3 separate regions of the Homo sapiens genome follow, and regions 1 and 2 are each linked to region 3. A link means that fine-mapping ties the variant in region 3 to the plasma level of a protein whose gene starts in the linked region. Region 3 holds a variant in brackets. A gene starts in each other region. All regions are shown on their forward strands. Distances are from middle to middle.

Region 1 (2,500 bases), 28 Mb before region 3:
GCCTGGGTGTAGTCAGGCCCTTTGGAAGCTCCAAGTCAGAGATCAAACACATCCTCCCCACTACCCACGCCTAGGGTGACTAATGCCTGTGGGAAAAACAACTGAACTAAAAAGTCCCACAGGAACCTCAAACCCAGCACATCCAAAATGGAACTTCTCACCATCTCCTCCAAACTCAGTCCTCTTATACAGTAATCCCTGTAAAGCTAGAACAATCTCCATTCCCCATTCTCAGGGCCTTCCTCTCCCGCTCACCTGAGGAGCTACCAAGCCTTGGCCCACAAGCCCTCTGAGAGTCCCTCCTGCCCACCCTGTGTTCTCCATACTGAATAAGGACTTGGCCACACCTTGTCAACTCTTCCCTCTGCTCTACTCCTGACCCCTGGATCCATCCTTCATGCTGTGGCTGAAGGGATCCCCCCATCATGCAAATTCTGCCACATCTCCCGCCTAAAACCCAGGAAGACTCCCCACTACTCTCAGCACAGAAAGTACACTCCTTAGTATGGCATCCCCTGCCCTCATGGCATGGCCCCATCCAGCCCTCCAGCCTCACACCCTGCAAGGACACCTAGACCCCCACCTCCCTCAACCCTTCATGACTGCGCTTCTGATCCCTGTTTCCCCTGGCTAGACCCTGCGTGCCCTCCCGCTGGAAGCGGTCTAATGCCTGCTTGTTTTTAACACTCAGGTTGGGGCCCCTGCCTGCTCCCGGGAGCCTTTGCTGACTCCTGGACCCCGTTGCTCCGGCTGAGCGTGGGCTCTTTCTCTAGGTCTTTCCTCCCAGGACTCTGTGTATTCATCCTATCGTTAAACTGGATTCTCTACAAGAGTAATAATTGCAGAGTCAGCCAGCTCTCATCCCTTTTCAGGTTTCAGAAAAGACCTGTGAACAAAACGCCTTGAGTCTGATTTAGTGTGGCAATGCCCCAAGGGTCCTGTTCTCCCTGGGTGTCCTGCACCTGGTGCAACGTCGGCCTGGCATCTAGTGAGCCATCTAAAGGAACGATGATGAGTGAATGATTTGCCTACCCCTTCCAGTACTAGGCTGGAGGTCGTGGTTAGGGCCCATCCCTACGCAGGACATGCAAAGTGGGAGGCACTCCTCTCTCTACGTCGGCAGGGGGCGCTGCACAGCTGCGGGGCGGGGTAGCTTAGACACGGGGCGTCCGGCTAAGGCCGGGGACCCAGGGTGGTGGGCGGGGTGTCCCGCCCGCCTGTGGACCCCGCGCAGTAACTGCGAACATTTCGCTTTCATTTTGGGCCGAGCTGGAGGCGGCGGGGCCGTCCCGGAACGGCTGCGGCCGGGCACCCCGGGAGTTAATCCGAAAGCGCCGCAAGCCCCGCGGGCCGGCCGCACCGCACGTGTCACCGAGAAGCTGATGTAGAGAGAGACACAGAAGGAGACAGAAAGCAAGAGACCAGAGTCCCGGGAAAGTCCTGCCGCGCCTCGGGACAATTATAAAAATGTGGCCCCCTGGGTCAGCCTCCCAGCCACCGCCCTCACCTGCCGCGGCCACAGGTCTGCATCCAGCGGCTCGCCCTGTGTCCCTGCAGTGCCGGCTCAGCATGTGTCCAGCGCGCAGTGAGTACTCAGCCCGCCAGGTCTTTGGCTCGCTCGGGTGCGGAGGGGCGGCTGCTTGGGAAGAGTGGGTAGAAACTCAAGTCTGCCTAAGGAGAGACTGGAACAGCAGCAGCCGTCTCCTGCAAAGAGGAATAAGAATAGGGGTCTCACCGTGTGCTAAATAGGGCATGTCTCTTTTCATCTCGAAACAGCCTGATGAGCTATCATTATGCCCACTTCGTAGAGGAGAAACTGAGGCCCAGCGTGGGAGATTTCCTGCTTTCCTGCCTAGGGTCCCTCAGCTACAAACAGAAGGCAGATCCTAGCCAGTTCTAAAGTCAGGCTTGGCCGGGTGCAATGGCTCACGCCTGTAATCCCAGCACTTTGGGAGGCCAAGGCGGACAGATCTCCTGAGGTCAGGAGTTCAAGACCAGCCTGACCAACATGGTGAAACCCCGTCTCTACTAACAAATACACAAATTAGCCGAGTGTGGTGGTGGGTGCCTGTAATCCCATCTACTCGGGAGTCTAAGGCAGGGAAAATTGCTTGAACTCGGAGGTGGAGGTTGCAGTGAGCCAAAATCGTGCCACTGCACTCCAGTCTGGGCCACAGAGTGAGACTCCGTCTTAAAAAAACAAAAAAAGTCAGGCTTTCTCACTCCACTGTTTTTAAAACACTGGGTCCCAAGTCTGACTCAGCCACTTCACCACCTGGTCTGGGTTTCCCTGATCAAAAACATGTAGGCTTTCTCTGGGTGAGTGTTGGGTTCAACACCCTTGTCCAAGCTCATCTCTAGACCCTCACAGGGAGCTGGCTTCTAGCCCTAGAATAGAGTGGCGCTTTGTAATAACTCGAGTCATCTCTCAGGTGTTGAAGGAAAAGTGTTGGAAATGGGTTGAGGGAGGTGGGTGCCAAGCATGAATGGATGGGTGAAG
Region 2 (2,852 bases), not on the chromosome of region 3:
AAGAAGCAACTCCCATTTTAGTATCACCTACATTTGAAACCACAGAGCACTGTCCAGGAGAGGTGATGGTGGTGGGTCTCCTCCTTTGGCTCTCTGGCCCATCAGCTGATACTAGGGAGCGCTATCCCTCAGCCCACATTTCTCAGCATGGTAAGTCTGAGAGTCTTGATGATTAAAACACATTTTTGTGTGTGCAATTTCATAGGTTTTCTAAACTCTTGAAACCCTTGCATGAAGGACAAAGGGACCCCACGTTACACACTCCTACTTCCTGGAGTATGCTAAGGGCTTCCCAACACTGGTGCCAACATCAGCATGCCAATGACGCTTGGGTGGGCATCTCTTTTTTAAGTTTTGTTTGTTACCTTTAATTAGAAAAGGGAGTTATTATTAAAGAATAAAAAGATATAGTCACAGATGGCATGGGTGGCACATGCAAAGATCCCTAGTTTGAGGGCCAGGCAGACTTCTAGAACTGTGTGACTCTGGGTGAGTCACTTGGCCCCTTTAAGCCCCACACTCCTGATCTATAAAATGGGCATGCTACTGTGGTAAGGAGTTAGTGACATAATTCACGTGAAGTGTCATGGTGCCTAGATGAAGTCAGGACCCACTATTTGCTCCCCTCCTTCCACAGCATTTACTACAATGGCAACAATACAGTCTCTTCTTTACTGTTTGTCTTCTCTGCCACACTGAGTGAACTCTCTTATGCCATGGATCATGTCTATCTTGTTTTGCACTTTACCCCCAGAGTCCAGCACAGAGGGATTCCATGACTTATTAGTAGCATGAAGGAATGTACGGAAATCATACAATTTCAGATTCCAGTAAACTAAACTCTAAGAGGTTACCCACATTCCATCTAGTATCTTGCAATTCCTTGTTTGAAAAAGTGGGTCATCACCTGGGGTTTAGTAATCCCTTTGTTAAAATGACATTGTTGTTGCACACAATTTTACCTGGGCAAGTAAAAAAACCTTTTTTTCCCCCTTCTCACAGATTTAAAAACTCTTTAGGAAGCAATAATAGCTTTTCATTTTTTAACTGGGGCCAAAGTTAGTTAATCCACAAGAATGGGGATCCCAGCTGTCATTTTGGTTGATATCACAACTGACGACCAAGACCATCACAAATATGGGAGCAAGTCTGATTTGTAACATTATTATAATTATGAATCCAATTACTTTAAGGAATGCACGAAAGGCTTTTTAAAAATTTCAATAGTAAGGCAGGCACCACTCACTTTAGCTCTATACAATCCTTTAACTGATGGGCATTAACATTTAGGAATATACTTTTATACATCAATACACACCACTTCAAAATAAGATAAAACAAACATTTCCACAAACTATGCATACACACAGATCTTGCTATACAGTTATTATTAGGTGGCTTTTAAAATGGACACTGTACATCGGTCCCTAGAGTACTAAGTTTTCACTAATGTTCCAGCAGATGACTCACCAGGGATGCTTCCAGGAATCCACCAACTCCCTCCTGCCAGCTGCTGGGGTAGCACACTAACGGTTTCTACACCTGGACAGCTGCAGGCCCACAGGGAGGGGAGGGAGGTAGGGGCTTGGGAAGTGCTTACCTTGCTCTGGGCAGGACGGAGAGTCCAATGGCCCTGAAACAGATGTTGTTTCTTCTGCTGCTGTTGCTGGTACTGGAACTTATATACTCTACTCCTTTCTGATGGAAACTTAAACTAGAAACTGACTTGTTGCAACATTGAAAACAACTCTCAAAACCTTCTGGGGGAATTTCAAGAAGTTCCTTTTTTGTTTGTCTCTCTCTGTGTGTGTATCAATAACGAGGAGGGAACATAGACATCAAAATCCCAGGTAATGAACTAAGAGGAAATGACTTTTGGGTGGGGAATAAGGAAGGAGATGGAGATGCTAATTTCTCTGGGTTTACATCATGGCCAAGGTGCTTGGAGACAGCACTAGGCAGATTCCCTGGGTTCCACAGATCGAGGAAGAAGGAAGGCCAAGGGGCGGTCAGACGGGAGGCTGAGTTCATGTCGGGATGGAACAACTGTATGCCCAAGGGCTTAAAAACAAAATCCTGGTTCTTCCCAAGTCAGAGAGGATGAGATGAAGGGCAAAGGGTTTAGTACATCTGGGGCGCCTTCCTCCACATTAGTCCTTTAATTTCAGAAACATACTATTTACCACCCATCTTGGCTCCATGCACCTCTCCCCACATTCCCCGAGTGGGAACACACGCGTGCACACACACACCCATGCACATTTCATACAGACACAGACCTGGGGAGATGATAAAACTGCGTGTACCACTAATAAGACTCAAATATGTGCACATCCTGTGCTCATAGGTACTCGCTCATAGGGGCGGATGGGAGCAGAAAGTGAAATACCCTCAGGGAGGCATACAGACAACCACACTCAAGGCACCCCCCCTTGGGCACCCAGACTACATCCTCATTTCATTTGCACACAAATCTATGGCCCTAGGGGCTCCGTGCAGATGCACAGGAATAGCGGAATAAAGATATCTCTCGTGGTGGAATTTCAAGTTGCTAAGAGGTATGCAAAGGTGTACACCGGTGTGGACCCCCCCATCCCCCGCCCAGTCTGCACGTGAACAGGAACATGTACCTGCACGTATACCAGGTACACGCAGACAGATGCGGGCCATCCCCAGAGCCGCCGACAGAGGTCGCTGCGAGACGGTACCCGCGCCCCACAGTCCACCCGCTCCTCGGAGTCCCCCCGCGCCCCGGAGTCCACCCGCGCCCCGGAGTCCACCCGCGCAGGTCCACTTCTCCATCCCTGCTCTCGACCTCCGCCCCTGCGGTGGGGGAAGTTCCTGGGGCGGTG
Region 3 (2,852 bases):
CTTAAATGTGAAAAAATCTGAAACTTTCTGAGTGCTAACACAATGCTCAAAGGAAATGCTCACAGGAACATTTTGGATTTCAGTATTGTGGATTAGGGTTGCTTAGCTGGTATGTGTAAATATTCCAAAAATCCAAAAAATCTGAAATTTGAAACACTTCATGTCCCAGATGTTTTGTATATGCGATACTTAGTCTGTAGTAATGAATATGTGATAATATAAGTATAATAATAATTTAGCATGTTATCCATAAGTACTCATGTCATTAGCTTCTAACAACAGTGATAGAGATCACAATGCCTCAACACTATATAAACTGTAAAATTCTAGAACCAGGGTGAATCTTAAAAGTTATCTAATACAACCCCTTTCTTTCCTAGATGAGAATAGTTGAGAATGTATTCACTAATACATTTCAGCGAAGTACAGGTTCTTTGCCCAGGAGTGCTGTAAATAACCAATGAAAATTCTTGAATGCAGGCAACAATTTAATCTTCATTTCAGAGACTCAGAGAGGCAGGTGGCTTGTTCAGTATTGCAGATTAGTAAGTGGGGAAGCCAAGCCATGATCCTGGGGATTCCTTCTCTGGTTGCCATAGACACGTTTTGGGGGACTTGTTTAGAAGTTACAGTGATTGAACTAATATACCCGAACAAAGTGGATTGGATGTTTTAGAACAAGGAGAAGTCCCTGTATTGTTGACAGAAATCTCTTTTATTTTGTAACTTGTCAGCTTAATTAACTACTGAAATGAGTTCCTTAATAAGGTGATGGGTGCCTCCTAATTCTTGTATGGTTCAAAAACAATAATTAATGCTGATTTGTGTGGTGAGATACATATTAATCATCTTTATTTTTGAATTATACAAATATACAATACTATTGTCCCTCCGTATTTTACATCTGAAGAGAATTTAATTGCTTTTTTGATAATAAAAATAAACAGAGAGCCACAAAGAGATATCACCACACATGTATTAGAAAAGCTAAAATAAAAATTTGTACCAGATGCTGCTAAGGATGTGGAGAAATGATCTCTCACAATGCTGGTAGGCATGTGCAAAATTTTGTAGCCACGATGGAAAACTCTTTGGCGGTATTTTACAAAAGTAAACATGTACTAACCATATGACTCAGCAAATATACCCTTTGGCATTTAATCCAGAGAATCAAAATGTTATGTTCACGAAAAAACCTGTACATGGATGTTCATAGCAACTTTTTTTTTTTTATCATAATGACAAAACACTGGAAACAACCCAAATATCCTTTGATGGGCAGATGTTTCAGTGAAGTCTGGTACAGCCATACAATGGAATAATACCATTCAGCAGTAAAAAAGAATGAAGTATTGTTGGTATATGCAATAACCTGGACATGCTTAATGAAAAAACTGTCTCGAAAGGTTACA[T/C]GTATTATATGATTTCATTTTAAGACAAAGCTCTAGAGATAAAGGACATATTCATGATTGCTAGGGGACAGAAATGGGTGGGTCGGGGGGGGGCAAGTACTGGTCATTCCTACAAAGAGGACGCAGCAAGAGTCTTTGTATGGGTGGAACAGATCTGTACCTCAATTGGAGTGATGATTACATGAATCTATACATGGGATAAAGTTACATAGAACTGTATGCACACACAAATCAATGCAGGTTATAAAATGGTAAAAACTGAGTAACTCCTAGTTAACAATAAGGTAACAATGTCAGTTTGCTGGGTTTTCGAATGTATTACAGCTTTATGAGCATTACCATTTAGGGAACCTGGGTAAAATGTACATGGAAACTCTGTACTATTTTTGCAACTTTCTATGAGTCCATATTTAAAAAAAAATTAATAATAGTAAAATAAAGGAATGCATATAGATATCTTAATGTATTCTTCTCTTACTCAAAGTGCTATCTTACATGCCATCTGAATTGCTTGCATGATACTTTGAAAGATCACTGCTATATGTATCCCTGCCAAAATGTATGGCTTAAACCTGTGGTTTTCAAAGCTGGCCAGTCATCAGAAAGACTTGGAGAACATTTTTCAAAAGAAAAAAATTAAAGCAAGTCCTAGGTCCCATCACAATTTTACAGAATCAAAATATCTGGCCATGGGGCCCAGGAATCTGCATTAAAACAAAGCAAAATAAAAAATAAAACAGAACTTCCCGGGAATTGTGATTGATGCTCAACCAACGTTTGGGAACCACTCATTTATTTCATTAACTTCAGGGACCAGTGCCTTAATCTCCTTTGAACCTTCTCCAAGTCCTGAGAGTGTACTCTTCCTCCCGTAGTTAATGATGGTAGCTTTTGAAGTCTTGAGAGTCTTTATCTTGTGAACATTGTACAGATTCAGAGACCTAGAGCATCTTTCATGTTGCTATTCTTTTCCCTCAGTGCTTTCATTATAGACACCAATCGTTTGCATATGTTGTCCTGGGTCATTTTATTTGGGATCCAAAACCAGAAAATTTCAAACAACAACAAAAAAATGGATTCTTCGAGAATGCCCTAGCCATGGACAAGCTTCTGCATTACAGAGCTCTTGCTATTGTGTTGCTTTGGGTAGCAATGCCTGAAATCTCAGCCAATTTTGGGTCACAGTAGGCCTATGTAAATTATCTAAAAATGGATTCATTATGGACATTATAAAAATAAATCTGACACCTGAGCCTTTGGGCAAATATACCATATAAAGAAATCATACCCTAGAATAACGATTAACCTAAAGAACTTAAAAAAAATCAGTATGATATTTTTATCATCCTTTCTTAAAATTACTGCATTCAGAGAGACCTGATGGCTGAGGACAGCACCTGGGGCAGAGGAGTATAGGTCATTGGGATGTGGCATCCTGAG

Direction of the effects. Alleles are on the strand shown, and positions count from the first base shown. The strength of an association depends on the size of the effect and on how common the allele is.
As copies of C replace T in region 3, the plasma level of the protein whose gene starts at base 1,246 in region 1 goes down (weak association).
For the plasma level of the protein whose gene starts at base 1,656 in region 2, C is the low allele of the variant in region 3 and T is the other (weak association).

The links. PIP is the posterior inclusion probability: the model's chance that the variant is causal. Protein levels are from antibody-based Olink assays in UK Biobank. Linkage for the fine-mapping came from a reference panel and not from the study's own genotypes, which makes the PIPs less certain.
Region 1: IL12A starts here. The variant in region 3 is fine-mapped to the plasma level of the IL12A protein (UK Biobank, PIP above 0.99).
Region 2: it holds the start of IL12B, and the variant in region 3 is fine-mapped to the plasma level of the IL12B protein (UK Biobank, PIP above 0.99).

The regions. Positions count from the first base shown.
Region 1 is chr3:159,987,590-159,990,089 of GRCh38, forward strand. It overlaps IL12A (interleukin 12A), which reads left to right and starts at 1,246. Exons shown (of 7, transcript NM_001397992.1): 1 at 1,246-1,585. The coding sequence starts at 1,570. IL12A-AS1 (IL12A antisense RNA 1) reads right to left here. Exons shown (of 10, transcript NR_108088.1): 9 at 1,508-1,704. RefSeq lists enhancers at 1-104, 956-1,456, 1,457-1,957, 1,457-1,506 and silencers at 1,017-1,216, 1,287-1,336.
Region 2 is chr5:159,328,832-159,331,683 of GRCh38, forward strand. It overlaps IL12B (interleukin 12B), which reads right to left and starts at 1,656. Exons shown (of 8, transcript NM_002187.3): 1 at 1,601-1,656. IL12B-AS1 (IL12B antisense RNA 1) reads left to right here and starts at 2,687. Exons shown (of 5, transcript NR_037889.1): 1 at 2,687-2,852.
Region 3 is chr3:188,414,280-188,417,131 of GRCh38, forward strand. All of the region lies in intron 4 of LPP (LIM domain containing preferred translocation partner in lipoma), which reads left to right. Among named protein-coding and RNA genes, the nearest start is that of LPP-AS1, 150 kb to the right of the region's middle. The variant T/C (reference allele first, on the strand shown) is at 1,413.